Homo sapiens: one gene and its partners. The protein of the gene in region 1 purifies or fractionates together with the protein of each later gene. This does not show direct contact. Each region holds a gene or a part of one and is shown in the gene's direction. Other genes may lie near its edges. The genes, in order: LIMS1, RABGAP1, PARVB and CMAS.

Region 1 (7,881 bases):
CTTAAGAATCGACGGGGCCGGACTGGATCCTCAAGTAAACATCTTAGTTCGAGGAGAAGTTTATAAATGCTCTCCTAAGCCAGTGTTTTAAACTTTCTATGATGAACTAAATGTGCCAGTACCAGAAATTCCAGGAAAAACAAGAAATTTGTTTTTGCAATTAGCCGAGCATGTAACCCAGTCTCTCAATGTCACTTCACGTTATGTACGTGGAGAAACTGTAATAGGAGATCAATGGCCACAGGAAGCCCAAGAATTAGTACCTACAGACCAAGTTCCTGATGAATTCCCAGCTCAAAAGAATCACCCTGATAATTTCTAGGTCCTAAAAGCCTCAATTATTGGACAATATTGCATAGCTAGAGAAGGAAGAGAATTCACTCACCCCGTAGGATGACTTAGTTGTCTGAGACAGAAAGTGTATAATGGCACCACAAAAACAGTCACTTGGTGGAGTTCAAGTCACACAGAGAGAAATCCATTTAGTAAATTCCCAAAGTTGCAAACTGTGTGGACCCACCCGGAGTCCCACCGGGACTGGACAGCCCCCACTAGATTGTACTGGATATGTAGGCATAGAGCTTATGCCAAATTACCCGACCAGCAGGCAGGTAGTTGTGTTACTGGCACTATTAAACCATCTTTCTTCCTACTGCCCATAAAAACAGGCGAAATCCTAGGCTTCCCTGTCTATGCTTCCCACGAAAAGAGAAGCATAGCTATAAGAAATTGAAAACATGATAAATGGCCCCCTAAGAGAATCATGCAATATTATAGGCCTGCTACTTAGGCACAAGACGGCTCGTGAGGATACCAGACCCCCATTTGCATGATCAACTGAATCATACGGTTACAAGCTGTCTTAAAAATAACCACTAATAAAACTGGCAGAGCCTTGACTCTTCTGGCCCGGCAATAAACTCAGATGAGAAATGCTATCTATCGAAATAGATTAGCTCTCGACTACTTGCTAGCAGCTGAAGGTGAGGTCTGTAGGAAATTTAACCATACTAATTACTGCCTATACATAGATAATCAAGGGCAAGTAGTTGAAGACATAGTTACAGATATAACAAAATTGACACATGTGCCCGTACAAGTGTGGCATGGATTTGATCCTGAGGCCATGTTTAGAAAATGGTTCCCAGCACTACGAAGATTTAAAACTCTTATAATAAAAGTTATAATAGTAATAGGAACCTGCTTACTGCTCCCTTGTTTGCTACCTGTACTTCTTCAAATGATAAAAAGTTTCATCGCTACCTTAGTTCACCAAAATGCTTCAGCAGAAGTGTACTATATGAATGAATCACTATCGATCTGTCTTGCAGGAAGACATAGATAAGAAAATGAAAGTGAAAACTCCTACTATTGAGTGAGAGTCTCAAAGGGGAGGAATAAGGCAGGAGACCACCCCTCATATTGTCTTATGCCCAATTTCTGCCTCTAAAGAAAGAAAAAGTAAAAACTAAAAGGCAGAAATGAAATCCACAAGCAGACAGCCCGGCCCCACACCCTAGGCCTGGTAGTTAAAGATCGACCTCTGACCTAATCAGTTATGTTATCTATAGATTACAGACACTGTATAGAAAAGCACTGTGAAAATCCCTATCCTGTTTTGTTCCGGTCTAATTACTGGTGCATGCAGCCTCCACTCACGTACCCCCTGCTTGCTCAATCGATCACGACCCTCTCACGTACACCCCCTTAGAGTTGTGAGCCCTTAAAAAGGACAGGAATTGCTCACTCGGGGTGCTTGGCCCTTGAGACAGGAGACTTGCTGATGCCCCCGGCCAGATAAACCCCTTCCTTCAACTCGGAGTCTGAGGAGTTTTGTCTGCGGCTCATCCTGCTACAGGCTCATTGCAAGTTCCGCCTCCTGGATTCACGCCATTCTCCTGCCTCAGCCTCCCAAGTAGCTGGGACTACAGGCGCACACCATCATGCCCAGCATTTTTTTTTTTTTTTTTTTAGTAGAGACGGGGTTTCACCGTGTTAGCCAGGACGGTCTCAATCTCCTGACCTCATGATCTGTCTGCCTTGGCCTCCCAGAGTGCTGGAATTACAGGCCTGAGCCACCGCGCGGCCATTTTCAATTTTAAAAAACTTTTTTATTACAGAAATGTTCACATATACACTAAAGTAGACAAGCTAATATAAAGAATGTAATGTATTTATGAGGTAGTTTCAAGTTATCAACCCACATTCCCCACCCCTACATTTTAAAGTAAATTTCAGTGATGTCATTTAGTGTACAGATAGTTGCCTAGGGACCTTTAAAATTTGTTCTTTCTTTTTTCTTTTTTTTTTTTTTTTGAATCGGGGTCTCACTCTGTCACCCAGGCTGCAGTGCAGTGGTGCAATTATAGCTGGCTGGAACTACAGGTGCACGCCACCATGCCCAGCTAATTTTTAATTTTTTTTTTTTGTAGAGACAAGGCAGGGGGGTCTCCCTTTTCTTCCCAGGCTGGTCTTGGACTCCTAACCTCAAGGGATCCTCCTGCTTCGACCTCCAAAAGTGCTGGGATTACAGGTGTGAGCCACCATGCCCAAATTTGTACATTCTTTTGGTGTACATATAAGAATACATTTGTAAGATAAATTCCAAAATATGAATATCTTGGGTCAAAGAAGAGCTGAATTTTACATTGATAGCTATTGCCCACTTGTTCTTTACAAAGCGTGTATGGATTTATACTCCTATCAACAATAAATTAGCCAGGCATGCTGACGTGCACTCGTAAACCCTGCTATTCAAAAGGATAGTTGAAGTCCAAGAGTTCAAGACCAGTGTGGGTAACATAGAGAGGCCTCCTCTAGGGGAGGAAAAAAGGGTTTCCCTATATCCTCATCAAAACAATATATAGTCAAACTTTTCATCTTTGCATTTGTGAAAAATTGTATTTTATTTTTGTTTTATGATACTTTAAGAAATCATTTGTATTTTTCTGTAGAAACCTGTTTTTCTCTGAGTTGAACATTTTTGTACTGATTTTTTTAATAATTAGAACTTTTTTAATAATTTAGAACTTTTTGTCATACATTTTACAAATATTTTTCTTGGTTGGGGTTTGTTATATTTATTTGCTATGCAGAAAATTTAGATTTCTATGTAGTTACATTTATCAATTTTTATTTATTTATTTAGAGACAGAGTCTTGCTCTGTCGCCCAGGCTGGACTGCAATGGCGCGATCTCGGCTCACTGCAACCTCTGTCTCCCAGGTTCAAGTAATTCTCCTGCCTCAGCCTCCCAAGTAGCTGGGATTACAGGAACCCCGCCACCACAACCGGTGAAATTTTTGTATTTTTATTAGAGACGGGGTTTCACCATGTTGGTCAGGCTGGTCTCAAACTCCTGACCTCAGGTGATCCACTCACCTCAGCCTCTCCAAGTGCTGGGATTACACGCGTGAGTCACCGTGCCCGGCCTACATTTATCAATTTTTAATTTTATGGTTTATATGCTCTTTGAAAAGTCTCTCACCACTCCAACCTTACTTTTGTTTTTTTCCCTTGTTTTCTTCTGGTATTTTCATAACCTCTCTCTTTTTTTTTTTTTTTTTTTTTGTTTTTTGAACATTTAACTATTTGCTTTGTTTGGAATTTACTTTCATGTGAGGACATCAAATAGATCCAGTGTTTTCCTCCGACATGCCTCGACTGGCAGGAGACCAAAGTTTTCATTCTATTACTAGAGAGTAGCTATAGTTACAGAATCAGGTATCCTGAGAGAGATCATTTATGCCCAGGATGAATAACTTGTCTTATCTATTAAATCTATTAAATCCTTTGGAGATTTCACTTTTTTTTTTTTTTTTTTTTGGGACGGAGCCTGTTACCTAGGCTGGAGTGCAGTGGCGCGATCTCCCAGCTCACCACAAGCTCCGCCTCCCAAGTTCAAGCGATTCTCCTGCCTCAGCCTCTCGAGTAGCTGGGATTACAGGCATGTGCCACCACCACGCCCGGCTAATTTTGTATTTTTAGTAGAGACGGGGTTTCTCCATGTTGGTCAGGCTGGTCTCGAACTCCTGACCTCAGGTGATCCGCCTGCCTCAGCCTCCCAAAGTGCTGGGATTACAGGCGTGAGCCACTGCGCCGGCCCCAAAATTTCAGGTTTTGATAGACGGAATGGGTGAAGAAAATGAGAGCTAGCAAGGAAGAACAGGATGCAGAGGCAAGACTGGAAACTCTCCAAGAAAGGTTAACTTTTCTTAACTCACAAGTTAAACAAAGGCTGCAGGCTCCATGCGGAGCTCAGGCACCCAGCGGTGACCGATCCAGACCAGGTCCTCCCGGAAGCCCGGCCTGCCCGACAGAGCCTTACCACAGAGCCCCCTCAGGCGTCCTCGCCAGGACGGGGCGGAACCCTGTGTAGCTCCCACCCCCGGGACGAAGGCCGCTGCCAGGGCCGCGCAGCCACGCGAGTGGAATCAGAGGAGCCTCGAGGCAAGGAGAGCCGGGCCCCGCTCCCTGCGCCCGTCACCGCCATCCTTGTTGTAGGGAACTCGGCCCCCGAGCCGCCGCCGCGCTCCGTGGGCTCCCAATGAGCCCCTACCCCAGCCACCCGCTGCGTTTGCGCCAGCCTCCCAGACTAGCCTGGGGTGCTGAAATGGGGGCGGGCCCGAGCCACGGGTTGGGGCGGGGTCTGATGCGCGCCCCGCCCCGCAACGCCCCGCCCCCCCGCGCCTACCTCTCCAGTCCGCGCCCTTCGGCGCCCGCCCCGCCAGTCCCCGCCCCTCCTTGCCCAGCCGCTCCCGCCCCTCCCCCGCCTTCCCGCGCGGCCCGCCTCGCCTTCCCCCCCCTCCCGCGCCCCCGCGCGGCCGGCCCCTGGCCTTCCTCCCCTTCCTGCTCCGGGCCCGCCAGTAGCCGGCCGCGGCGGCGAGGGACTAGGACGCGGCTGGAGCGGCGCCGGGAGACGAGGGGCTGAGAGACGGCGGCGGCCGAAAGCGGAGAGATGCTGGGCGTGGCGGCCGGGATGACCCACAGGTACGGGCCGCACCGCGCGGCCCCCGCCACGTCCGCCCCGCAGCTCCCGGCGGGCCTTCGGGCCGGGCCGGGCCGGGCCTGGCGCGGGCGGGCGGCCGGGCTTTCCCCGCGGCCTCCCCCGGTCGGCCGGAGCCCCGACCCCCAGCGCTCGGGTGGCGGCGTGGCTGCGTCCGGGCCCGCGGAGGAGACGGCTGCTGTTCACTCCCGGGTGTCCGCGGTGGCACAGGCGCTGACGCCGCCCCGCTGCTCCGAGAGTTCCATAAGACAAATCAGTATTTGCCGAGCTAATCATTTATCTTCTAGCAGTAGGGATCAGCGGGTCGCAGACGTCTTGGTCTCAGGACCCCTCTTGGGACTAGAGGACCTGGAATGGTGGCTATCTCCATAGACTGTACTAGAAAGGAAAACCGAGACACTGAAGTTACTATTAACTCATTGAATAAATCCGTGGTATGTTAACGTACATACCACATTTTTATGCAACATAGGGTTTTGCTAAAACAAAAGAGTTCGTGGGACGACTGGCGTCCTTTACAGTTTGCGAATCTCTTGAGTTGTCTGACTTAGTAGAGACAACTACGTTCTCCCATCTCCTTTGCAGTTCAGTCTGTTGCGGTATGTTTTTATATGAAGAAAATCTGATCTTACACAGATGTGTAGTTGGAAAAGTGAGTACTGTCTTAATAGCTGTTTCAGATAATTATGGGTATTCTTTATTACTACACCAAAACTACGTAAGTGGAAGTTTCTCAAAGGCTGGTTTGGACGTGGAATCTGAAGCTACTGTCAGCGGACTTTTCACACAGTTTCGTTAAAATTCCTTGGTCTGTCTTGCAGTTTGAATGCAGCTAAAGCTCCTGTCAGTGGCCTTTGCACACAGTTACGTTAAAATTCCTTGGTCTGTCTTGCAGTTTGAATGCAGCTGTTACCCATTGTAACACCATATATTTGTCGTTTGGAAGATATTGGCTCACTGAGTTTGGCAGATCTCAAGCTGACGCATTTCATTAATAGCGCCGAATAACATTCGTTACCATCGCTATTGATTTCATTAGGAAAGTCTTTATGTTAAAAGCCGTCAGATACAAGGTGGTGTTTACAAGTTTTCCAAAATTCTCATTTTCGGTTGAAAGCTTGCTTTTTATCATTGGGAGCAAAATATTGTCAATTGTTTTCCTCAAAGTGACAGACTCACTTTGTTCAGTTTCAAGGAAGTGTCCGGCAATACAGGTTTAAATAACCCTAGTTTGTCAGTTGTTCTTTCCCGTAAAAATGGTATTTCATGACACAAGCAAGTTAATTCAGCTCATCGCTCTATTACAGAAGTGCACGCCTGCCATTTGGTCACAAGTAACAAAAAAGAGTCAAAGCTCAAGATTTGATAACAATAATTTGTACTCCTTCATCATGGACTTTTTTCCTTAAAAAAAAGTATTGACTAGTAAGTTGATATAAAATTTAAAGTATTTGTGAGATATTAAGAATAACGGATATGTAGTGTAATAAAGGAGATAATAGTTTCCTTTTAAGACCTTCAAACCTCTCTGGTCCAGTGTCTCTCCGCATCCTATCCCCTTCCCATCCTGAATTTACCATTAGTAATTTACTTTTTGGAGGGAGAGTAATAAGTTCATTCAAATTATTGTGCATCCGTAACCATCATACATGTCCAGAAATCTTTATCTTACAAAACTGAAACTCTGTACCTATTAAACAATAATTCTCCATTCCCCTCCTCCCGCCAGTCCCTGGCAGCCATCATTTTAATTTCTGTCTATGACTTTGACTACTGCTGGTACCTCATATCTCATGTAAGTGGAATCATACGCTATTTGTTGTGCATGTCATAGTTTGTTCCTTTTTGTTGCTCAGTAGTGCTCCATGGTATGGATGTACAGCAGTTTAACTGTTCACATGTTTGAAGGACATTCAGGCTGTTAGTTTTGGGCTATTAAGAAAGCTACTACGAACAAATAGACAGGTGTTTGTTGTTGTTTTTGAGACAGTGTCTTGCTTAGTCACCCAGACTGGAGTGGAATGCAGTAGCATGATCATGACTTACTGCACCCTAGACCTCCCAGGCTGAAGCAATCCTTCCACCTCAGTCCCCCAAGTAGCTGGGACTACAGACACACGCCACCATGCCTGGATAATTTTTGTATTTTTTTGGTAGAAACAGGGTTTCGCCATGTTGTCCAGGCTAGTCTGGGGGTCCCAAACTCCTGGGTTCCAGCAGTCCACCCACCTCAGCCTCCCAAAGTGCTGGAATTTTAGAGCCACTGTGCTCAGCCTGTCTAAGTTTTATGTGAATGTAACTTTTCCTTTTCTGGGATAAATGTCCAAGAGTGTGCAATTGGCAGGTTGTACAGAAATCGTATGTTTAGTTTTTTGAGAAACTGACAGTTTTTTTCCAGCATGACTGTACCATTTCACTTAAAAAGTGAAATTGACATTATTTTCCTGTGAGTACATAAAGGTAAAGAATTCAGGGACAGTACCACGGCCCTCTTTAGTGCTAAGCGGCCAGCAGTTGTACCGACTGTTGTTTTTGCACTATCTGTGTGTCAACACAGTCCACAATGCTACAGTGACTTCTTAGGAATATCTTAGTATGATGAAAATAGTTTTGATCTCTCGGATCCCTTAGAAAGGTCTTGGAGACCCTCAGGAGTTCAAGGCCATACTTTAAGAACCACTGTTAAAGACATAATCCTAAATGATGAAGGATATGCAGGTATTGGGGATATTTAAAAAGGAACAAATACAAGGTTTCTCTTAAAATTGCTCTTGAATGCTTGTGGTAGTGTGTGCCTTGTAGTTTTGGCTAGTTTTAGTAGGATGTAATAACTAAGACTTGGACCACCATGGAAGAAGCAACTTTCTGCCTTTCAGG
Region 2 (7,022 bases), on another chromosome or scaffold:
AGTGCATGTTTGAGGCAGAGAGGGAAAGGACATCCCAAGGAGAGGGAACATCATGAACAACAACAAGGAAATACGAAGTTTTTTTTAGCGCAGAAGTGGTTTTTCCTTAATCTTCCCTACTCCTTCGCCACAGGAAATGCAGTGGTGATAGCTGTATTCATTGTAAAGAAAAAGTTAAGATTGGAGAGAAGTATTGGCACCACTTACTGTCTGTCAAAATGCTGTCCCAGTGTGGGTAGCATCCTCCAGGGTTCTGTATTCAAGGTCCTATAGTGCCACCATGGCCCACAAGTGGCTACATTCATTTACATTTCCTCTGTGTGTTTTATTTTCCAGGCTTATTCTGTGTATGATGAAGAGATTGGTTATTGCCAGGGCCAGTCATTTCTTGCTGCTGTGCTCCTTCTCCATGTGAGTAATTAGGTCTCTGTTATGACTTAACACATGGCCTCCCTCAGCTTATACTAACCTTAGGCTTGAGCATGGTTTTATATTGGGTTTGGACAGACTCTTAAGGCATGAATTTTAACACCTATAGCTGGAAACTTTTTCCTTAAATTAACTTAATGTCATTGTGGAGGAGATATATGATGAGAATAAACGGCAATGTTGAAAACTGGTACAGGGGTAGACTTCCTTTTTATTAATAGGATGATTGGAGAGACTTTAATGTTGGTTGAACTCTTGGGGACGTTTTATCTTCTCTAAAGTAGCCGCTGTCATTAATACTTGTTTTGAGATTTAGGTATTGGGGTAGGAGGAAGGCGGAAAAGTTGGTTTTCTTTTAGTACCATTTTATTCATTCATTGGCTTAGCAAACACCTTTGCCCTCCACCTTTTTTATTTTCTTTCAAATCCACAGAAAACTCTAAACAGTGTTAAGGTGAACAGTCTTTATCTAGTTTACCAATTAATATTTTCCACACTGCTTTTTCTGTTTGTCTCCCTCTGCATCTCTTTTTTTCTCTTTTCTGCATAAACACACATTTTCTTTTTTACTTAAATTGTTTTTTGAAATTATTCTTGAAAGTAAATAACAAACATCAAGACTTCTAAATACTTGATCATATATATGCCTTCTGGGAGCACAGAATTCTGTATCATAATCATAATACCATGATCACATCCAAGAAATTCCACATTGATTCAGTAATGTCTGATACACAATACACATTCAATTTTCTCCCAATTGTCTACTCCATAGAATCTAGCTTTTTTTCTAATCAAGATCTAATGAAGATTCAAATATTGAATTGTCATTTCTCTTTATTCTTTTAATCTAAATTACTCCTTTGCCTTTTTTTGTGTTTCATGCCATTGATAGTTTTGAAAAATTCAGACAAATTGTCATATAAAATGTCCCACAGTCTTGATTTGTCTCATTTTCTCATGATTCAGTTTAAAATGCTTGGCAAGAATACCACACAGGTGATGTCAGCAAAGAGTTTTGAGTACCTGTTATGATCTGTACTGTGCTGAAGATCAGAGGTAAATAAGAGACATGGTCTCAATCCTCCTGGATACAGAGCTTGTGAATCCAACTAGCTTTAAGCACATAATCACACAAGTATATCATTTATTACTTTCAGTGGTGCTATTAAGGTATAATAAAAAGTTTGGTGTAAGATTGTAACAAGGGAGTCTTACTTAGATTAAAGGCTTCTCAGGGGAAGTGACCTGTAAGGAGCAGCCTGGAAAATGATAAGGGATATCATTTTCTTTTGCTCTTTTCTGTGTTAACTTTTCAAAATGTTGTTATGAAAATAATAGATCTATTTGAAAAGGGAGTAGAGAATAGAGTGTTAATGGGAAAGTGAATGGTACAGTATACAGAAGTCCTAAACTGGGGAAACACTTGGTGTATGGGAGGAACTGAAAGGAGGACAGTGTGACTGGAGTATCCTGAGTGACTGGGAGTTGAGGAGAGAGCTAGGGAGAGCTTTGAAGCCCAGATAAGGAGTCTGAATCTTGCTTTTCTAAGCAACAGGTATTCAAGGGTATTAAGCCATTTTGTGTAGATTGCAATACAAGTTTGAGTATCCCTTATTTGAAATGCTTGGGACCGGAAGTGTTGTGGATTTTGGATTTTGGATTTTGGAATATTTGCATTATACCGGTTGAGCATCCCAAATCCAAAAATCCAAAGTGTTCCAATGAGCATTTCCTTTTAGCATCATGTCAGTGTTTAAAAAGTTTCAGATTTTGGAGCATTTTGTATTTTCAGATATGGGTTGCTCAACCTGTACAAGTAAAACAAAAACCACTTTGGTTTTTCTTAACTGAACCCAGCTTGTTGCTATTGGTAGTCATGTAAAAATATGATAAAGCTATGACATGAATAAAGAGGTTGACTTTTTATTTTGTTTTGTTGTTTTAATGAGACTTTATATCTCAAAGTCCCACAAGCCTGGGTGATTTATCTTCGTTCTCACCTTCAGTTCAAGGACATTTATCCCCTTGAAAATGGGTTTTCCAATCAGACCCTCCATGTCTTGTTTTGAACTCTTGCTGCTTGCCAGAGTGTTATAAGTGCTTGTTTAGAGTGAGGGGAGATGGGCTACTTAGCATCAGAATCACCACTGTGGGTTAGGCCACATCTCCTTGCATGTGGCAAAGTGAAGTTGCCTTCCATGACAAAGACTTCAAAGATCTGGGCTTTTGCCCCAGATACTCTTAACTTACCAGTAATGATCTGCTATGCTTTTCTCACTTATTACTTAATCTGATTTGCTCTTTAGTTCTGCTTTCTTCTCAGTGATTTCTGTGCTCAGCCCGCCTCCATCATCTTGTTCCATAGAAGCCTGCCCACCTTCTTGACTTTTTTGAAGGCTTGCTACATTCACACCAATCCTTAAATAACATTTCCAGTGCTTCTTTTTTCTCTTTTGAAAATATCTTGCCAAGTTCTCAGGGAAATAATTATCCATAAAACTATGGAAAATGTAGGTATTATTATAAATGTAAATAGAAGTGAAGGAGGCTTTTGTAGTACTTCAAGCATTACTGCAAGCCTTAGAATATGTAAGGTTCTTCTAAAACAAGCTATATTTTTAACAGTGAGGAAGAAAAACAATTTTGCTAGAATGAAATAGCAGCTAAGGGAGGAAAAATGGTTAAACAGAGGTCCCAGGATTTGGGAAAGATGACACCTACACTGTATATCAGCCTATTTCTGCTCAGCTCAAATTCTGTCCTTTCTACAAAGTCTGTTTCTGACTGCCTTAGGCAGATACAGGCCTTCCTGTTCTTGTATTATCACTGATGTCTAATTCCTATTACAGTTATTTTAATACTGGCTGTGTGAGAGACTCCTTGAGGACAGGAACCATACTGACAAAGAGTAGTCATTGTTAACTATTCCTTGTTTGAGTGAATAAATGTTTTAAACACAACCTTAGGCCTGAGTTTCTGCATAGCACTAAATTTTCTGGTAAGGCAATAATATAAAGCTGGATTTAATATCCTGAGAAAACTTCTGTATGTTTTGTGATTCCCCACCGCCATCCTCCCTACCCAACAACTTGCCTATCTGTTACAGATGCCTGAAGAACAGGCATTCAGTGTTCTGGTCAAGATCATGTTTGACTATGGGCTCAGGGAACTTTTCAAGCAAAACTTCGAAGATTTGCATTGCAAATTTTACCAGTTGGAGCGCCTCATGCAGGTAAAAAGAGAAACCAGCTTGTGTTTGACAAAAAGAGTACAGGACTAAGGAGCACCAAATTGAGGAAATGGTGCCAGGGAGCATTGGTAATTGCCTTAGCGATCCGTGGCTAAGGATGGGTTTCATTTTTATCCTTTATCACTATGTGATTATGATGCAAAGATTAACAAAGTGTTAAACTTTCACACCTCATGGATGTGAGCTGATAAACTCCCAAAAGATCAGATGACTTTGTTAGGGGTCTTTTCCACAGCTAACTCAGTCAAGAAGTACTCCCCAAGGCTCTGAAGCTGACTGGTTAGGAATCTCATAACAAAAGTGAAACAAACTTTCCCAAATGTTTTTTACTTTGGAGAGAAAAACAGGCTTTCCAAATACTTGTCACCATTTTGGGGATTCCTCTTTCTTTAGAACAAGTTTGTGGTCTGGAAAAAAGAGTTGAGTGCCAGCTTAATACCAGATGATAAGTGTTCTAAGCACTTTGGAGATTTTTAGAAAAACACAAGTATTTTACTTTTTTGGCCTATTCCTGGTAGATTTATGAGCCTCCTTAGTGGGAATTGGACAGATGCATATGTGCCCAGAACTAATTGGTTTGCTATTTCAGGAATACATTCCTGACCTGTACAACCACTTCCTGGATATAAGCCTTGAAGCACACATGTATGCCTCCCAGTGGTTTCTTACTCTTTTCACTGCAAAATTCCCTCTCTACATGGTCTTCCATATCATCGACCTGCTTTTATGTGAGGTATGTATCAGAGGCCACAGCACTTTGGCTTTTGTTTGCAGTGTACTTGAGGAGAACAGATTCTGTTTTGAGTGTCAGCTCTGTCAAAACAGAATTGGTCTCTTTAATTATTTTATTTTATTGCTAGGAAATCTAGGTTTAAGTGACTTCCTTGGACTAAAGCTAATGATCGTATTTGTTAAAGGTGTACTCTGAAAAGACGTACTGAATTAGACATTTGTATTAGTTCATATTAGTTTTGGCTGTATTGAATGAAGAAACCCAAAGTAACAGTGATTTTAAAAAATAGCTTTTTGCTCTCTTGTGAAAAAAAGTCAATGTTGGCAGTAGCGTGCCTTCCCCTCACTCTGGCTGTTAGCCGTATGGAGGAGTAGCACACCAGCCATTATATCATATTCAAGCCAGGAGGATTAGAGGATGGGAGAGGGTGCCTCCTCTGTTTTCAAAAGAGACTTCCTGGAAGTTCCATCCAGTATTTCCACTTTATGGTCAGAACTTAGTTACATGACCACACCTAGCTGCAAGGGAGACTTTTTAAAAAATAAGCTGAGCAGGAATTTGCTAAAAATTAGAGATTTATTACTAAAGAGAAAATAAGATATTAGAGTAAATAACAGTCTTTGCCATGACGTAATTTTGGATTTTGTGTGGTGTGTTTAAGAAAAACATAATTATAAAAATAATATATGTTTATAGAAAATATAAGTAAAAATAATTTAAAATACTACAAATCCCACTGTCTATAGGTTACCTCCTTTAACAGTTTGGTTAAAAGCAGTATCCTTTCAGCCTTTTTTATGTGTTCATATATGTGTATGTATAATTACTATACAGAATAGTATGGTTTCCATATGGATGGAACACTATATATATTATGGTTCTCCTATGTGTATATTTAAAAATATGATTGTTATTTATACTCTTTGGTATCCTCTTTTTAAATTTCATATACTTGAACATACACATCTGTACTATCCTTTTTAATTATGCTATATTCAAAACATACAAAAATTCATAAAGAATTTGTATCTACCACTCAGCTTGAAATATTCTAAGAAACAGAAGAAATAAATATTACCAAATATGCCGTTTTTCTTAGTTGCTGCCAAGTATCCCATTATTTGGATGTGCTATACTTTATGTAACCAATTTCTAATCACAAACCTTTAAATTGTTTCTAGCTTTTTAGTAGTATAAACAACCATCTGTTAAGTAGCTACTAAAGGCCAGGTGGCATGCTAAGTAATTTACATAAACTTTTCAGCTAATTATCTCAGAAAACCCATAGGAGAGTATTAGTTATGGAAACTGAGGCCCAGCAGCTTAAGCAGTTTAACTTGATCAACAGATGTTAGTGCTTCCTCTCCTTTGTTCTTAGCCCCAGGATTTGCAGAATGGAGGGAGCCTTGAGCAGATTCAGTTCTGGAATATAGGGCTTATCGACAGAGTGGTTGCTGTGCATGGATTGGGACAGCACAAGATAAAGGAAAAGTTCCCCAGGAGTTATTTCCTGAGAGATCACAACTTTATGACTGATCTTTTGGTTTGGAAGCATGGAATGCTTTGGAAAAGCATTTCTTATTATTGAATATGAGAACAGGGCAAGAAAAGCTCTTCTCTCAGAAAAAGGGGAAGCTAGGTCTTTAAGCAGCTTTTCAATGGCCCTTTAGTTTTTATTTTTCAAGGTAGTTCTGAGATAATGCATTTCCTTCCTTAAGTTTTCACAATTTCTTTAAAAATGTGGGGTATAAGGACAAATAGCATAATAGTCGAGATATAAAAACTGACAGTGTTCTTTTTGTCTGTTCTCTTTCAGGGAATAAGTGTTATTTTTAATGTCGCCCTTGGATTATTAAAGGTACTCATTTATTTATTAGCTGAGTTATCTGTCATTCCCTGCTCTGCACTTGCAATACATTGGTTGTAGTCTCATTCTGAGCAGTCACTGTGCACTAGCATTACCCATGACAGTGGATGTATGCAGGTGGCTCTGACAAAAGCGAAGAAATATCTTCTGGGGATTATAAAAGTGCTGGAAATCTAGCATTACCCCTAACAGTGGATGTATGCAGGTGGCTCTGACAAAAGCTAAGAAGTATCTTCTGGGGATTGTAAAAGTGCTGAAAAGTGCTGAGAATATAAAAAACTTCTTGTGCATCCTTATAGCAACACATTTTTTCTATATGTGTTTGTATTTTCTTCAAGACTTCGAAAGATGACCTGCTGTTGACAGACTTTGAAGGTGCCTTGAAGTTCTTTAGGGTTCAGCTTCCTAAGAGATACCGCTCAGAAGAAAATGCAAAAAAACTAATGGAATTAGCCTGCAACATGAAGGTAAAATAATTTTGCATTAGTTAAGATTCTGTTTTTCACTTAGTGTCTCACTATTCCTGATCATTTATAATACATAATTATTTATGTATTATATTTATAACATTTATAATACATATTAGTGTTAACATTTATAATATATAAATAATATTAATGATGTTTTCTTCTGTATTATATAACTCTTAACCTTTTTTTCCCCAAAATACTTTCCTATATATTATAATCCTACGAATGAAATCTCGTTGTCCCCCCAACCGCCAAACTATAGAAGAGTAT
Region 3 (7,022 bases), on another chromosome or scaffold:
TGGGTGGCTGGGTCCGTGGGTGGGGAATCGGGTGCCTTGTAAACTGTAAAACCCTGCAGGAGAAGTGGTGATGTTGACCAAACCTGAGTCCGCATGCTGAGGAAGAGAGAGGACAGACTCAGGCAAGGCAGGGGCTAATGTCTAATGTCCCCAGAGTGGCCTCTGCTCTTGGCAGCCTACCCTTGTTGGGATGGTTCATTGCGGAGAGGGAGCCCTTTTTTAGTGCCAGAGATAATAACGCACATCCTTGTGATGGGTAAGTGGCCGTGACCTGCTTTCCATGCTCTTTTCCCTTCTGTGCTAATTTTACTATCCTGTTCCTTTCCCTCATCACTGCCCAATTTATTGCTTTTAAAAACATTGTGCTTCTAAAAGTGGTTGCACAAGTCACCTTAGGCCAACAGGAAAGGAGACAGTGAAGCTAGAAGTAAATTCACCAGGTTGCTCATCAGCTCTCTTGATTTGTCCACACTTCGCTCCATCCTTGTCTCGCTGGGGTCTCATTTAGATGCTGTGTCTCTGTTGCCTTCTGCACGTGGGCTCAGGTTCCTGTGTAACCTGATCTAAAGCGTCTCCCTTCCTCCTTCCTCCTGCAGCAATTCACGGGAAGAACCTGGTGGCCATCCTCCACCTGCTGGTCTCTCTGGCCATGCACTTCAGGGCCCCCATCCGCCTTCCTGAGCATGTAACGGTGCAGGTGGTGGTCGTGCGGGTGAGTATAACCGAGTGGTCGGCCTGCCTGTAACTCCGCCAGAGAGGCAACATCTTCCTCCTGCAGTTTTCCTGCCCTCCCCCTCCTTTTTTCCCCCCAGGAGGCTACCTTCTATTTTTCCCTTTTGACAAAATGTGTGTCTCACCCTGGCTCCGAGATAAATGATTGGAACGGGAACAATGGCATTGATTTGATGAGAGGCAGAAGCAGAGGCATGAGGGTGTTGAGGTTTAATTTTCCACATTTTTGAAAAGAACATTCATTTCTCTCCAAAGCCAACTGGTTGGAATTCAATCCCCTTGAATGTGCTTATTACTCATTGGAGGAGGTTGGCCCCGCGGGATGAAACAGACACCCAAATTAAAGCCGCTTTGCATTCGTTGGGGATTATTCATCATGCCCCATCATCTCTTTTTTTGGGTTCATTTCTCTTGATTCACTTGGAGAAATGGAACCAGAACCCAGGTCCTTCTAACAGAGGGTGAAGTAGAGTTACCTTTCTCTTGCTATTTCCCTTACATTTATTTTTTATTTTATTTTATGTTTTGTGAAAGGGTTTCACTCTGTTGCCCAGGCTGGAGTACCATGGTGCAGTCATGGCTCACTGCAGCCTCAACCTCTTGGGCTCAAGCGGTCCTCCCGCCTCAGCCTCCCAGGTAGCTAGGACTACAGGCACATGCCACCGTGCCTGGCTAATTTCAAATTTTTGTAGAGACAAGGTCTCGCTATGTTGCCCAAGCTGGTCTCGAAGTCCTGGGCTCAAGCGATCCTCCCATCTCAGCCTCCCAAAATGCTGTGATTATAGGTGGGAGCTGCCATGCCTGGCCTTATTTCCCTTACATTTAAGTGGACAGTCGCTGCCTAGGGTTCGTGTGTGCAGTTTCCCTCAGTAAATGTGCAATGAGCGCCTACTATTCTCTAAGCACTCAGCATAGGCTGCCGAGCCACTAAAGGAGGAACACATGCCTGGCGTCTGTGGGGGTGACCACTGCGGCCAGAGTTGAGGTCACGCTCGGAACCTTGGATGCCTCTGTGTTTATTTTACTCGAGACATCCGGCTCCACTTTCCTCTGGTTTTTAAACTTCTCAGTCCCGTGGTCTCTGTGGTCGGGGAGGACCTGGCTGTCACTGTGTTTTCCGAACCCATTCTGGCCCCTCTGTTACCCTGGGAGCTCAGTCTTGACCGGACGGGAATGCTCCTCTCTGGCATCCGGCAAGGGCCACCTGCCATGTGTCCATGTTTCCTTCCTAAGGAGGATGTTTGTGGCTGGTGGTGGTGACTCGGGACCTGGGGGGCCATTCCTATGGCCCCGTGTCTTGGCCACTGGTTCACAGGCAGCCGGCCTGAAAAGGCTTCCCTAGGACACATTGGGATGTGGTTCCCAAGCCTACCTACGTCAGCTCGGGGCCCCAGGAGCCCTGTGCAGGCTCAGAAACTGGAGTATTTCCTTTCAGGCTTGCACTTGGGTCCAAGATAATCTTTGCGGTTTGCAGAAAGTTTGAACCAGGCAAGCACTTGCTGGTGCTTCCTGCCATAACGGGTTAGAGGAGTGTTGTTTGGCCACGACCAAAGCAGAATGAAACGGGAGCAGGGGGTCCTGTGAACCGGGCGCAGTTACTCCCCAGACCTTAGAGCCGCCTTCTGTCTTCTCTGCAGCCCCCTGGCCTCTGAGCTTGCTCAGGGGACCCCTTATCTAACCCCAGATGGAATGGTTGGTGTAAGGGATGTGGCATTTCCAGGGTGGAAGGAAGGAAGGAAAGGGCCTTATTTACTGCCTGGCCACGTGGCTTTGGGCTGATCACTTGCTTTTGCTGAGCTGCAATGCTTTTCCCCATAAAACCAAGATTTTACTACAAACCTGTAAAACATCCAGCTTCATGTCTACAATCCTAGACCTGGGCCCAGCACCTGGTGGGTGCCTCAGGCATGTTTGATCCTTGACTAGGTGAACACAATGTCTGGACCTTCCTTGGCAGGCACTCCTGAGAATCAGGATAAATGTCACCCACACTGTTGTTCAATAACAAGCACCAACCCTGAGTATTCCATGGAGGTCAAACTCAGGAAAGGGATGGAAGCCCAGATCTTGGTGGTGTCCACTGTGGGCTGGCCCAGCGGGAAATGAGTTCCCAGTCCCTTGAGGGGTTCAGTGGTGGTTGGATTAGCCACCCAGGCTCCATCTGGAGCTCCTGTGACAGGCGGGCTGCCACCCCTACCATCACCACTGCCATGCCCCCCTCACTACCATCATTACTTTTTTTTTTTTGAGATGGAGTCTCACTGTGTCACCCAGGCTGGAGTGCAGTGGCACAATCTCAGCTCACTGCAACCTCTGCCTCCTGGGTTCAACTGATTCTCCTGCCTCAGCCTCCCAAGTAGCTGAGATTACAGGCACATGCCACCACGCCCAGCTAATTTTTGTATTTTTAGCAGAGACCGGGTTTCACCATGTTGGCCAGAATGGTCTCAATCTCTTGATCTCATGATCTGCCTGCCTTGGCCTCCCAAAGTGCTGGGATTACAGCTGTGAGCCACTGTGCCCGGCCATCATTGCTTTTCTATACCTGCCACGCTCTGGGAGAAGTGTGACATATACTGTGTCAGTTTCCTAGGGCAGCCATAACAAAGTACCACAAACCAGGTGGCTTAAAACAGCAGACATTTATTCTCTCGCAATTATGGAGGCCAGAAGTCTGAAATCAAGATGTTGTCAGGGTAGGATGTCCTCCCTCATGTCTCCTCCTCTAGGGGAGGGGTCTTCCTGCCTCCTCCAGCTTCTGGTGGTGGCTGTCAGTCCTTGGTGTTCTTGGCTTGTGGCCACATCTCTCCAGTCTCTGCCTCTGTCATCACATGGCCTCCTCCCTCTGTCTGTTTCTGTGTCTGTTTCCTCTTCTAATAAGGAGGTGAGCCATATTGGATTAAGGAGGGGCTCACCATAATCCATGATGACCTCATCTGAGCTAGTATCTGCAAAGACCCTTATTTCCAAATGAGATCATGTTCTGAAGTTTGTGGTAGATATGAACTTTGGGGGACCCTCTTCAGTCCCGTGCACACACATGATTGCAGGGGATGTTCCCTGTTATTTATGTTCCTTCCAATTGCATGCCTCACCTCTCCTGGCTGCAAAGCATAGAGGATCCCTTTGGGGAATCCTGACCTGGGGTGTTTCTCCTGAGACCCACACAAATGCCAACTCTCAAGGCCACGTGGAGACCAGAGGGTGGGGAGGAGGATAGGGACAGGTTGTGGTCGCTGAAAGGCACCCTGCCCAGGGTCCCCTGCTGTGTACTCACCCAGGCCTGGCATGCGTGTTCAACACCACCCCTCCTTCTCCTGTTGCTCTTTTCTAAGATGATCTCCGGCCCCGCAGCTTCGTCTGCCCTGTCAGTGCATCTTTCCTCAACTCTCCACTGCCTGATTTTGTATGTTTATTTTGGGGTTTTCAGAAACGGGAAGGCCTGCTGCATTCCAGCCACATCTCGGAGGAGCTGACCACAACTACAGAGTAAGTGGACCCCTGTCTTGCCCTTCCAGGCCCTGCTGCCCCGAGTGAGTGGGACCCCAGGCTGCCACTTCAGCCAGGGACACCAGCGCCCATGGGGCTGCTCCCGCTCCACACCCCTTCTCTGTAGCATGTGATTCTCATGCTGGTTCCCACCCCAGCTCTCCTCCCTCTGCACACTTTCTTCAGAGTTTTTAACATTAGAACTGAGTTACCTTCCACAGACTTTGAATTTTTTCATTCCTATCTTAAAAGGTGAGCTGTAAGAACATTGCAAAGTGGGGCAGGCAGAGAGAGTTCAGGATGGTTAGAGAGAACCATTGTCTCAGTTCATTTATCCATCTACATTAGCCCCATCAGAGGTGGGAGCTACATCTTTAAACCAGAACTTTCCTTTGACAGACACTACTAAGCCATCTGTTATCTCCTAGAGAAAGCCAGAGGGCAGGTGTTCAGAAGTCTAAAAGGCTTCAAATCTATTGAAAATAGCAAATCAAACAGTATCTGTGGTATGTGGTTTTAAGGACTCCTTGTGATAACCTGCTAAGAATCTTTAGAATTCACTGCATTTGTGCCTCTTGACTAAACCTGTTTCAGATGAAACAGAACATTTAAAAATTGATTGTCTCAGCTAATCCATCAGCTAAGTTCACAGAGTGATTAATTACTGTGTTGTGAATTCATGGATGGTATTTCAAAAATTGGAGCTGACACAGGAAACCACTCGTGGCTTGCAAGCTCTCAGGGAAGATGATGGGACAGTGGAGTGCAGGCTGATGCATGTGCAGAGGCCCATGAAGAGGCCTCCCAGTCTGCCCCAGGCCCACGAAGGGAACAGGGAGAGCTGGAAAAGGGGAGGATGAGAATGTGGTTCTTTGCCCAGCACAGTGGGCCTTTGGCAGCAGCTCTGCCTATTCAGCAGTAGGAGAAGGGCTGCTCGTGGGGAACTGGGATTGGGCTGGTGTCTTAGTTGTTTATTGTTGTGTAACAAATCACCCCCAAAGTCAAGTGGCTTAAAACAACATCTGTTTCATTTGCTGCTCACAATTCTGTGGGTCAGCAATTTAGGCTGGGCTCAGCTGGGCGGTTGTTCAGCCAGTCTCGCCTGGGGTTGCTCATATGATGCAGACATCTGAAGGCTGGATGGAGGCTGGGGAGGCTGAGATGGGCTCCCCCTACCTCTGGTGGTTGGTGTTGGCCTCCCCTGGGTCTCTTTCCTCCTCACAGTGCTGGGCATCTTCCCAGGGTGCTCTCAGGGTCCTGAGAGAGTGAGAATGCAGCTGCAGTCCCCTTGAGGCCTTGTCTTGGACATCCATACCTATGTCCTCAATTCTGTGAGTCAAAGTGAGTCACAGGTCATCCTGGATCAAGGTGCAGGAAACAGACTCTGCCTCCTTGTGCAGGAATGGCCTGTGCACATTGTTGGGTGGTGGGCATGCTGTGATAGGAGTTCCCCTCTAGGTGAGGGGGTCCCATATGAGGACAGCAAGGAGGAGCTGGGCCCCCTGCCATAAAACTAGAATGGTCCAGAGACAGAGAATGAGCAAGTGGGTGGGAGAATTGTCTCAGCTATTCATCAGCAGTAAGTGGCCCCAAGGACCTGCTGCATGCCAGCCTCCTTGCTGGATCAACAGAGACACTGAGAGGTGGGCTGAGTGCAGTTCTTTTCCTCCAGGGCGACCCATCCTGCTGATGAGAAAGGATGCATCCACAGACATGTACAGTCTAACACAGGGGCTTGTGGGAAGTGCCTCGGGGCCCTAAGGGAATTTCCAGGAGGAGGGGAGCACCCCAAAGTCAGGGAAGGGGAGATTTCAGTGAAAGCCACCTCAATCAGATATCAGATGGCCCTGAGCAGTGAGGAAGGGAGTTGGGATTTTCTAGCCTGAGTCAGTGTCCCTCTGCCAGCCAGGGTCAGGGTAAAGGAGAGGCTGGGTCACCTCTCCAGGATGATGCCCCAGGTAGGTTCTCCTCAGGGCTGGTCATCCCATCCTTGTCTCCTGTTCCTTCCCCTCCCCGTGGCTGCGGAGGCTCTGACGGAACATTTGAATCATTGGATGTCTGCTGAAAACCAGCGGCCCAAAGATCCACATTCAGTTTCCTAAGGCAGCATTGCCACCTCCTATCCAGTCTCAGTGTTCCCCTTTCTCTTTCAAGAGGTGGCTATGAGGTCACCCCTTCCAGGAAGCCCTCCTGTCTGCCAAGCAGGAGTGCTTGGCTTCCTGTTAGTTCCCTTAGCCTCTGGACACATGTGGCCAACATTGAAATATTGGCTTATGAGGTCTGTCACTCCCAGGCATCCTGAGGGCAGGGCCACATAGTGTTTATCTCCAGGGGATGTTAATTTCTGTATCTGCACAGCCTGCACATAGTAGGTACTCAAGTAAGTGCTTGTTAAATAAGATGGAGCCAAAGGACTTGAGCCTAGAGGGATTTGGGGACAAAGTAAAGACTTCCTTGCCTCTCAGGAAGGCAGTGCATGGAAAGGATCTGTGCACTCACTCACTGGGAATCTTTGAGGAGAAGCTGCTCACCACTCCCGTCTCCCCCATTGCTTCCGCTGCCGCCTGCCTGAGATCAGGGCCTGGCCTCGTGGTTCTCCAGGATCCTTTAGTTCCACAAGTCCTGCAAGTACATTGTGTTTACTCCTGGAAACATGAGTAACCTGCAACCTTGTGTGTGTGTTTGTTTGTTTATTTATTTATTTGAGACAGGGTCTTGCTCTGTTGCCCAGGCTGGAGTACAGTGGTGCGATCCCAGCTCAGTGCAGTCTTGACCTCCCAGGCTCTAGCGATCCTCCCACC
Region 4 (7,263 bases), on another chromosome or scaffold:
AAAAAAAAAAAAAAAAAAAAAGAGAGAGAGAGAGAGAGAAAGAAGTACATACAAGTTGTTTCGAAACAGAAAACATTGGTTACAGAGTCTTATGGCAGAAATTGACATCTGTTTATTAGTGGAGACAGGCAAGTGTTCTTATGCAAGCAGCTAGCTGTCCTTGTGTGGCTAGCTTTGTGTCCTTGTGTGGCTGCTAGCTCTCATTGTATGACTCATGTAGCAAGCTGCACTTTGAAAAAATTTCCTGTGGTATTTTTTTGGTGGAAGCATAGTGCATGAGTGCCCCTCCCTCATGGCCTTCTGGCTCTATTATCTTAGGGTTAGACATAAGCAACTTCATTTTGGTATTGATAACTTTCACAGTGACAATCACAGCATTTGATATAATTGATCACTTTTCCCTCCTTCCATTACTTTTATTCGCATAGATTTCAGGGTACCCTATTGGCTTCTGTTTTGCATTCTGTCTCAGTCTCTTTTGCCATGTCTTCTCATTTCGTTAACCTCTAAGTGTTGGAGACCCCCAGGGCGCAGTCTTCGGACTTGTTTTCTCTTCTGTTAACTTTTCAATCTTAGCTGATCTCATCTAGTTTCTTCTCTTTTCTGTCTGCCATCACCTCTCTTTCTCATCTAGTCCTATGGCTGAGAATAGTACCCAAATGCTGATGACTCCCAAGCTATATTCATATCCTAGACCCCTCCTATAAACTCTAGGGTAACATATTCAATAGCCCACTGTTTATTTCCCTTTGGATAGCTAATAGATATTTCACACATGGCATTTATAAAACAGAATTCATAATTTTGTCTCCAAACCTTAGTCCTTCTTATCCTTTCCATCTCGGTTAATAGCAACTCCCTCCTACTAATGGTCAGGCCAAAGATCCTGGAATCACACCAATTTTCCTGTTTCTCTCATGCATTTCACCTAGTCTGTCAGAAAATCCTATTAGCTATACTTTTAAGATATATCCGGAAAATTTGAGCACTTTTCATCACCTCAGTGTATTTTCAGTGCCCAGAAAAGTGCCTGACACAGTTGTCATGCAATAACGATTTGTTGAAAGAATGGCGTGAATCAAGTTATATCCCTTCTATCTGTAACTTCCTTAACAAAGCTGAACACATAAGGTCTTTATGTGCTGTAATCTGGCCCACGCGTTCCTCTCTATTTTCATCTTTCGCCACTAACCAACCAGTATATTCTGCTTCAGTCATAGTGACTCACTTCAAGTTTCCTAAATCATCATGTAGTCTCATTCCTCTGCACCTTGCACAATGCCATTCCCTCAGCTGAGGTCTTTTTTGTACTTTAACAATCTTTCAAGAGTCATCTCAGCAAAGAAAAGTTTTACTCTAGCCTAAATACCTCCCTCTGTGCTTGCCTACCTCATGTACACTTTTTCACAGCACAAATCACACTCTACTGGGGTGTGCCTGTCTCCCTGTCATAATGCTAAGTTCGCTGCCTTTCACCTCTTGGTTTGGTATTTTTAACGTGTAGCACAGAGCCTGGCTTTTGGAATGCAGTGAATGTGAACAAATGAGTGAGTCAAAGGACTCCTCTGTATACAAAGTTTGTTTACATACAAAATCATAAAACAAGAGATAATATAAGGATATATTCTTTCACAATAAATACGAATGAATTATTCTTCAGCAGCAACACTTCATACTGATCTTTAAAGGAAAGATGACCGAATATTTGCTTTGAGAGTAGTTTATTTTGTTCCTCAAAACTAATCCAAAGAAAAAGACAGGATAACCCATCCTCTTCCTCTTCCTGGAACAATCATTCTCTCTTTGGACTAAGTAAAAATATTGTAAAAGAGTAAACTCTAATTTCATTTTTTAAAATTCATCAAATTTCTGTGTGCCATATGCTGAACTAGATGCATCACCTTCCCCTTCTACTACCACCACCTCTCTCTCTTCCTTTGTCTCCGTCTCTCAAGATTGGGAGTAGCTAAGTGTCAGGTCTAATCAAAATTGTGCTGTAACCATACAAAGGATATAAAATGCTTTATTATCATAAGTTTGCAACTATATTTTAAAAAGCATGCGTGGGCAGAGACTGAAAAAGTAATATGAGAGGCAGTTCACCAATGTTTACTGAGCAGTACTGTGACCCATGCATTGTTCTGGATGAGAAGATTACAAAGAAGGAACAGTCCCTCTCCTGGAAGAGTTCAAAGTCTCTTGGTATTTATGTAAATCGCTATAATCTCATTTGATAAGTAACAGTGGTGCCACTTGCTCTGTTCCCAGCTTAGAGGACACCAATATGCCCCAGGAGTCAAAACTACTCAGGTGTCTGTGGTCCACTAGGATTTATGGGCCTGTAGGGAATTACTGTGGAGAAGGGCAACTAAATCATTAATAGGAATCAAGATTGTTATTGGGGTGTAGTAGGGGTCCTCACATGACTACCAAAAGCTCAGTGCTGGTGTCTCTGAGGCACAGCAACTGCAAAGGCCCTACTCAAAGAGCCAGTGTATGGGGGCAAGTTGTCCCCTTGCCCTTCAGTGCTGGAATGGCTCATAGAGCCTGCCCCTTTCCCAAGCATGGCATTGATGTCTGCTCACAGCCTCCCTTATCTGTGTCTGCACGAAGCACCTTCTTCCAGCACCAGTCCCAGGAAGGGCTGGGCCCTCAGTTAATTCACAGACTAAGAGATGTAAAGTATCCAGTACCTCTCATAGGACCCAAAACATCAAAGACTTCTTCTCTCCCCTCAAAAATGGCCAAGACCTGAGAAGTACAAAATCCTTTTGCCCTCTGGGAGAAGGCAAGCCGACACACTACAATCCATTCTTTCTGTTTGTATCAGCCTCCATCTCAGAAATGTAAAAGACTCTACTTCCAAATATAGGCTTGCAAACATGCTGAAAGACAAAATGCATGCTAGGTCAGAGATGCCTGCTTTAAAGTCTCTTTTTTTTTTTTTCCTAAGAGAGGTGTGTGTGGGTGTATGTCTTTGAGCCTCTTGGCTGGATCAGGGTTTAAATGCTCAGGCGTGGCGGCTCATGCCTATAATCCCAGCACTTTGAGAGGCTGAGGCGGGCAGATCACTTGAGGTCAGGAGTTCAAGACCAGCCTGGCCAACCTGGTGAAACCCCCAACTCAACTAAAAATACAAAAATTATCTGGGTGTGGTGGTGCCCCTCTGTAATCCCAGCTACTCAGGACGCTTGAGAATGGGTGGCAGAGGGTTGCAGCGAGCCGAGATTGTGCCACTGCACTCCAGCCTTCTGGGGGACACAGTGAGAATCTGTCTCAAAAAAAAAAAAGAGTTTAAATGATGCCTCCAGAATTCTTTCTCTTTAATCCCTACATGTCATTGTTCTGCTTCCTCAGGGAGAACATCAGTCTTCCAGCCCATTTCAGAACAGCAAAGCCCCCCTGCCGCCCTACCCTACCCTTGCCCTGAGGCTTCAGGTTAACAAGGTCCTTAGCACCCAGTCAGCACGAGAAAGATCCTTTCTTTCCAAGACTCTCTGGAAAGGACTCCAGTGGGCTCTGCTTGGTCATATGCCTGTCCCTAGACCACAGGTGTGTTAAGGAAAATGGGGTGCGTAGATGGACCAGCTTGGGTCACACACAGTGCAGAGAATGTGAGGGAAACCCTCACCGGATGAGAGAGGGATCAATTCCTAAAAGGAAAAGATTTTTAGCAGACAACAAAACAAAACCAAAAAACCAAGTGTCGGCCACACTAGAGGTGACCAGTAAAGCTGACTTCCAAATTTCTGCTGCTAGGGAATGCTGATGTCGATCAAAGTGCGGAGAGCATATGAAAAATGGAGTTTTTAAAACGTTGAGTTTAAGGCGCCTGTAGGATATTTGAATGAGCTGGTCAGTAATTTCTTGGAAAAAATGACCCAGGGGCATTAAAAAAAGGTGTATGTTTAAAATGTACATTTTAAAATATAAAATGGATTCGTGTCAGGGTGCATCAAGGTATGCAACGGGAAACCCACCACAATTCTAAAGTGGGGAAGTTCTTCAGCAATTATAAATACTTTTTTTCTTTTTTAATTTTAGAAATTTACAGACACTTGCAAGCACCCCAAAAGCCGCACTTCCTCCAAATATCTCTGGACTCCCACTGCTTGACTTAGTTTTGGGGTCACCTCATCAGAGCCTACTTGGCCTACTGGCCCCAGACGAGGCGGCCGCGGACTACAATTCCCAGCGAGCACCGCGAGGGGCGGGGGAGGGGGCGGGGCGAGGGACGGCCGCGCGCGCCAGCTGCCAGGCGGGGATCGGGCGGCGCCGAGCTGAGGTGGTGAGGGACTAGCTCCCGGATGTGGAGAAGCTGGGGAGAAGGCGTGGGAGGAAGATGGACTCGGTGGAGAAGGGGGCCGCCACCTCCGTCTCCAACCCGCGGGGGCGACCGTCCCGGGGCCGGCCGCCGAAGCTGCAGCGCAACTCTCGCGGCGGCCAGGGCCGAGGTGTGGAGAAGCCCCCGCACCTGGCAGCCCTAATTCTGGCCCGGGGAGGCAGCAAAGGCATCCCCCTGAAGAACATTAAGCACCTGGCGGGGGTCCCGCTCATTGGCTGGGTCCTGCGTGCGGCCCTGGATTCAGGGGCCTTCCAGAGGTGCGCATGTGCGAGAGTGGGCGGCGCGGCCTGGGCGGGGGTCGGGAGAGGGAGTCGGGCTGCTGGAGGGGCTGGGGCCTCCGGGGCCACCGCTCTTGGAAGGGGGCCATCTCTCATGCCAGGGATGTGCAAGATCCGGGGTGCCTGGGGCCGGGCTGAGAGCCCAGGAGGAAGGGCTCCAGCTCCTTCCTTGTTCCGTAGCTGCCAATGGTCATAACCTGGGACAGTTCCTGTCTCCGCCCTTGAGAATCATCCGTAAAAGGGGAGATTACACCTCCCCAACCGTCCCCTCCTCCCGGGTTGACCTTACGGGGAAAAGTAAAGGAGGCCACCCCGGTGCAACATCTGTGATAATATGTGAACTTCTTTGGATGGGGGCCATCGAAGCTCCCCTGTTGCTCAGCCTCTGATAACTGCTTGGTGCTGCTCGATTAGGGAGGCATCAGGTTCATGAATGGAGTTGAGTGTCGGGGTGTCAGAGCTGAATTTCAAGCTCAGCTTGGAGATCTTTTCCTAACCTTTGAAAAATACTCCAGCTATCTTCCTGTGAGTCAGCACAATCTAGAAAACTCCCTACATTTATAAATACGTGAGACTCAGTGGGAAGGTGTACAACTGACTGTTTTATGATATATTAATACTTACAAATCATTTAATCATACCTTTGGAACCTCGCCTGCCCTATGGACAGTTTTAATTATGCGTAATTTAGATACATTGCCAAATTGGTCAGGAGTTACAAGCTGATGTTATTCATAAAAGAAGGGAGATCGAATTCTGTGCCAAGAATGAATTTACACATATAGCTTCAACCTAACTACATTTGAATGTGTTGTTATTGTGGAAATTAATTTATGTTAACCTTTTGATGTTTCGATTTTTAAAGAGATGACTGTTTTTGAAGTCATCTCTTTTTCTTTTTGAACCTATATTTGCTTACCCATATTAATATATGGGTAAATGATTTTCATTTAACCAGTCTTGTTCAAAAACGGGAGATGCCAAAAAAGTATAAATATACTAATTTTCTTAATGTTTCAACCCAAAAGAAGTCCTGGATGGACCAAGGCAAATAGGAGCCACCACTCAGAAGATAACACTAGTGCAATAGGAAGTGTGCGAAGGAGAGATAGGGAAGGACCTGGGGATTTTGTTCAATTCAGTAGCTATTTACTGAGCCCTAATTTCTGCTATACATGTCCAAGGGAATACCAAGATGATTGGGACACAGTTTTTGTCCTTGTGAAGCTCACAAACTTTGGGATATTTTTACATTCTTAGAAAGGGTACAAACTAAAAAGGACTGAGAGAAGTAGGTGCATCCAGACTGCAGTAATATAGTGAAATATCATTTTTGTGAAATGAACTAGAGATCAAAATCATATTCACAGTAAATGGAGAACAAAACTGTTAATACCATTTACAACTCTTAGGTTGTATATATCAGGAAACCCTGTTCAAACTGGCATAACAAAAGAGGGAAAGGCTTATTAAGGTACAGTCAGATTCAAGGACAAAAAAATGATTCATTCATTCAGCATACTTACTGCCTACCTACTATGTAACAGGCACTGTTGTATGTACCGAACCACGTGTAGTAGCAGTAGAGACAGCCCTTAGTCTCATAGAGCTTACGTTATAATAAGGAAAGACATGCAGTATACAAGAACATTAATGTGTGTTGTATCACGTTATGATAAATATTTTTAAGAAAAAGTAAAGCAGGATAAGAGGATGGTGCACTTTGTTGCCAGAATCCTCAATTTCTTAGCTCTGGATAGACCCTTTATGGTTTCAAGGTGGTTGTACTGAGAACTGCAGAACTCTCAGGGTACCTAATGACTTGCTCCAAACCTCTGCTCCAAGAGACTTGACCAAGCCCTAGCATGGCTTCTAGCAGCTTAAGGCCATGTCCCTAGGATGATCTCAGGTTCCCTTAAAATGGCTTCCTGAAGAGGCTCAAAGCTGCCAGAATTTCCTGATTGTTCCAGGAAAAACCTGGTGAGAGGCCCCTGAACCCTCTTTTAGAGCAATTAGTTTAGAAAGCTTGCAATTATAAAAACTTTCCCTGCCTTTTGAGATGTAAATCTACCACACAAAACTGTTTCCTCAAGGACCTGGGAGCCCCAGAACCCTGTCTCAGTGAAATGCGAACATTCTAGGAAATAACTCTTACTCTCCTTCCTAGTCCCTCTGGGAAGATAAAGGGCAAAGTTCAGTGGACACCTTGCTTCAACTTGCTCAGTTGCCTTGTCTCATAAGGATAGAAGATTGTTTCTCTTCCAGATAAGCGCTAGTTAACAAATCCATATGGCCTAGTCACACGGACTAAGCCCTGTTAGCACCCCTCAGTGCCTTTCCCTTAGCACAACTCAGCCTTTAAAGTCTCCAGCCTTTCGTTTTCTGGGGCTGTGAATGCAATTCACATTGGACTCTTTTCCCTGTTGCAGTAGTAACAGAATACAATCTGTCCTTAACACTTTAGTCACCGATTTTGTGTGTCTTTGATAGCAGTCCTCATATTCTTACAGGTTTAAATGTAAGTCAGAAGGAGTGCTCTCCTCGAAGCTCGAAGTTTCATTGTGCCTCATTGGGTACCCTGCTCATTCTTCAACCAGTCACTATGGCAAGAGGAACATAGTGCTTGTATTGCTACAGTAT

Evidence for each region.
Region 2: the proteins of LIMS1 (region 1) and RABGAP1 purify together in Homo sapiens (affinity purification with mass spectrometry; 3 studies listed by BioGRID and IntAct, with this or other methods). This does not show direct contact.
Region 3: the proteins of LIMS1 (region 1) and PARVB purify together in Homo sapiens (affinity purification with mass spectrometry; 3 studies listed by BioGRID and IntAct, with this or other methods). This does not show direct contact.
Region 4: the proteins of LIMS1 (region 1) and CMAS purify together in Homo sapiens (affinity purification with mass spectrometry; 3 studies listed by BioGRID and IntAct, with this or other methods). This does not show direct contact.

The regions. Positions count from the first base shown.
Region 1 is NC_000002.12:108,529,607-108,537,487, forward strand, and holds the start of LIMS1 (LIM and senescent cell antigen-like-containing domain protein 1), read left to right. Parts: upstream 1-4,863; 5' UTR 4,864-4,956; coding exon 4,957-4,988; intron 4,989-7,881. UniProt on the Homo sapiens protein: Within the IPP (ILK-PINCH-PARVIN) complex, binds to F-actin, promoting F-actin bundling, a process required to generate force for actin cytoskeleton reorganization and subsequent dynamic cell adhesion events such as cell spreading and migration.
Region 2 is NC_000009.12:123,070,014-123,077,035, forward strand, and holds part of RABGAP1 (rab GTPase-activating protein 1), read left to right. Parts: intron 1-336; coding exon 337-411; intron 412-1,398; coding exon of another isoform or gene 1,399-1,464; exon of another isoform or gene 1,465-1,488; intron 1,489-3,538; coding exon 3,539-3,664; intron 3,665-4,271; coding exon 4,272-4,415; intron 4,416-6,231; coding exon 6,232-6,273; intron 6,274-6,620; coding exon 6,621-6,749; coding exon of another isoform or gene 6,750-6,758; intron 6,759-7,022. UniProt on the Homo sapiens protein: May act as a GTPase-activating protein of RAB6A. May play a role in microtubule nucleation by centrosome. May participate in a RAB6A-mediated pathway involved in the metaphase-anaphase transition.
Region 3 is NC_000022.11:44,132,298-44,139,319, forward strand, and holds part of PARVB (beta-parvin), read left to right. Parts: intron 1-596; coding exon 597-712; intron 713-4,162; coding exon 4,163-4,221; intron 4,222-7,022. UniProt on the Homo sapiens protein: Adapter protein that plays a role in integrin signaling via ILK and in activation of the GTPases CDC42 and RAC1 by guanine exchange factors, such as ARHGEF6. Is involved in the reorganization of the actin cytoskeleton and formation of lamellipodia.
Region 4 is NC_000012.12:22,041,962-22,049,224, forward strand, and holds the start of CMAS (N-acylneuraminate cytidylyltransferase), read left to right. Parts: upstream 1-4,256; 5' UTR 4,257-4,342; coding exon 4,343-4,602; intron 4,603-7,263. UniProt on the Homo sapiens protein: Catalyzes the activation of N-acetylneuraminic acid (NeuNAc) to cytidine 5'-monophosphate N-acetylneuraminic acid (CMP-NeuNAc), a substrate required for the addition of sialic acid.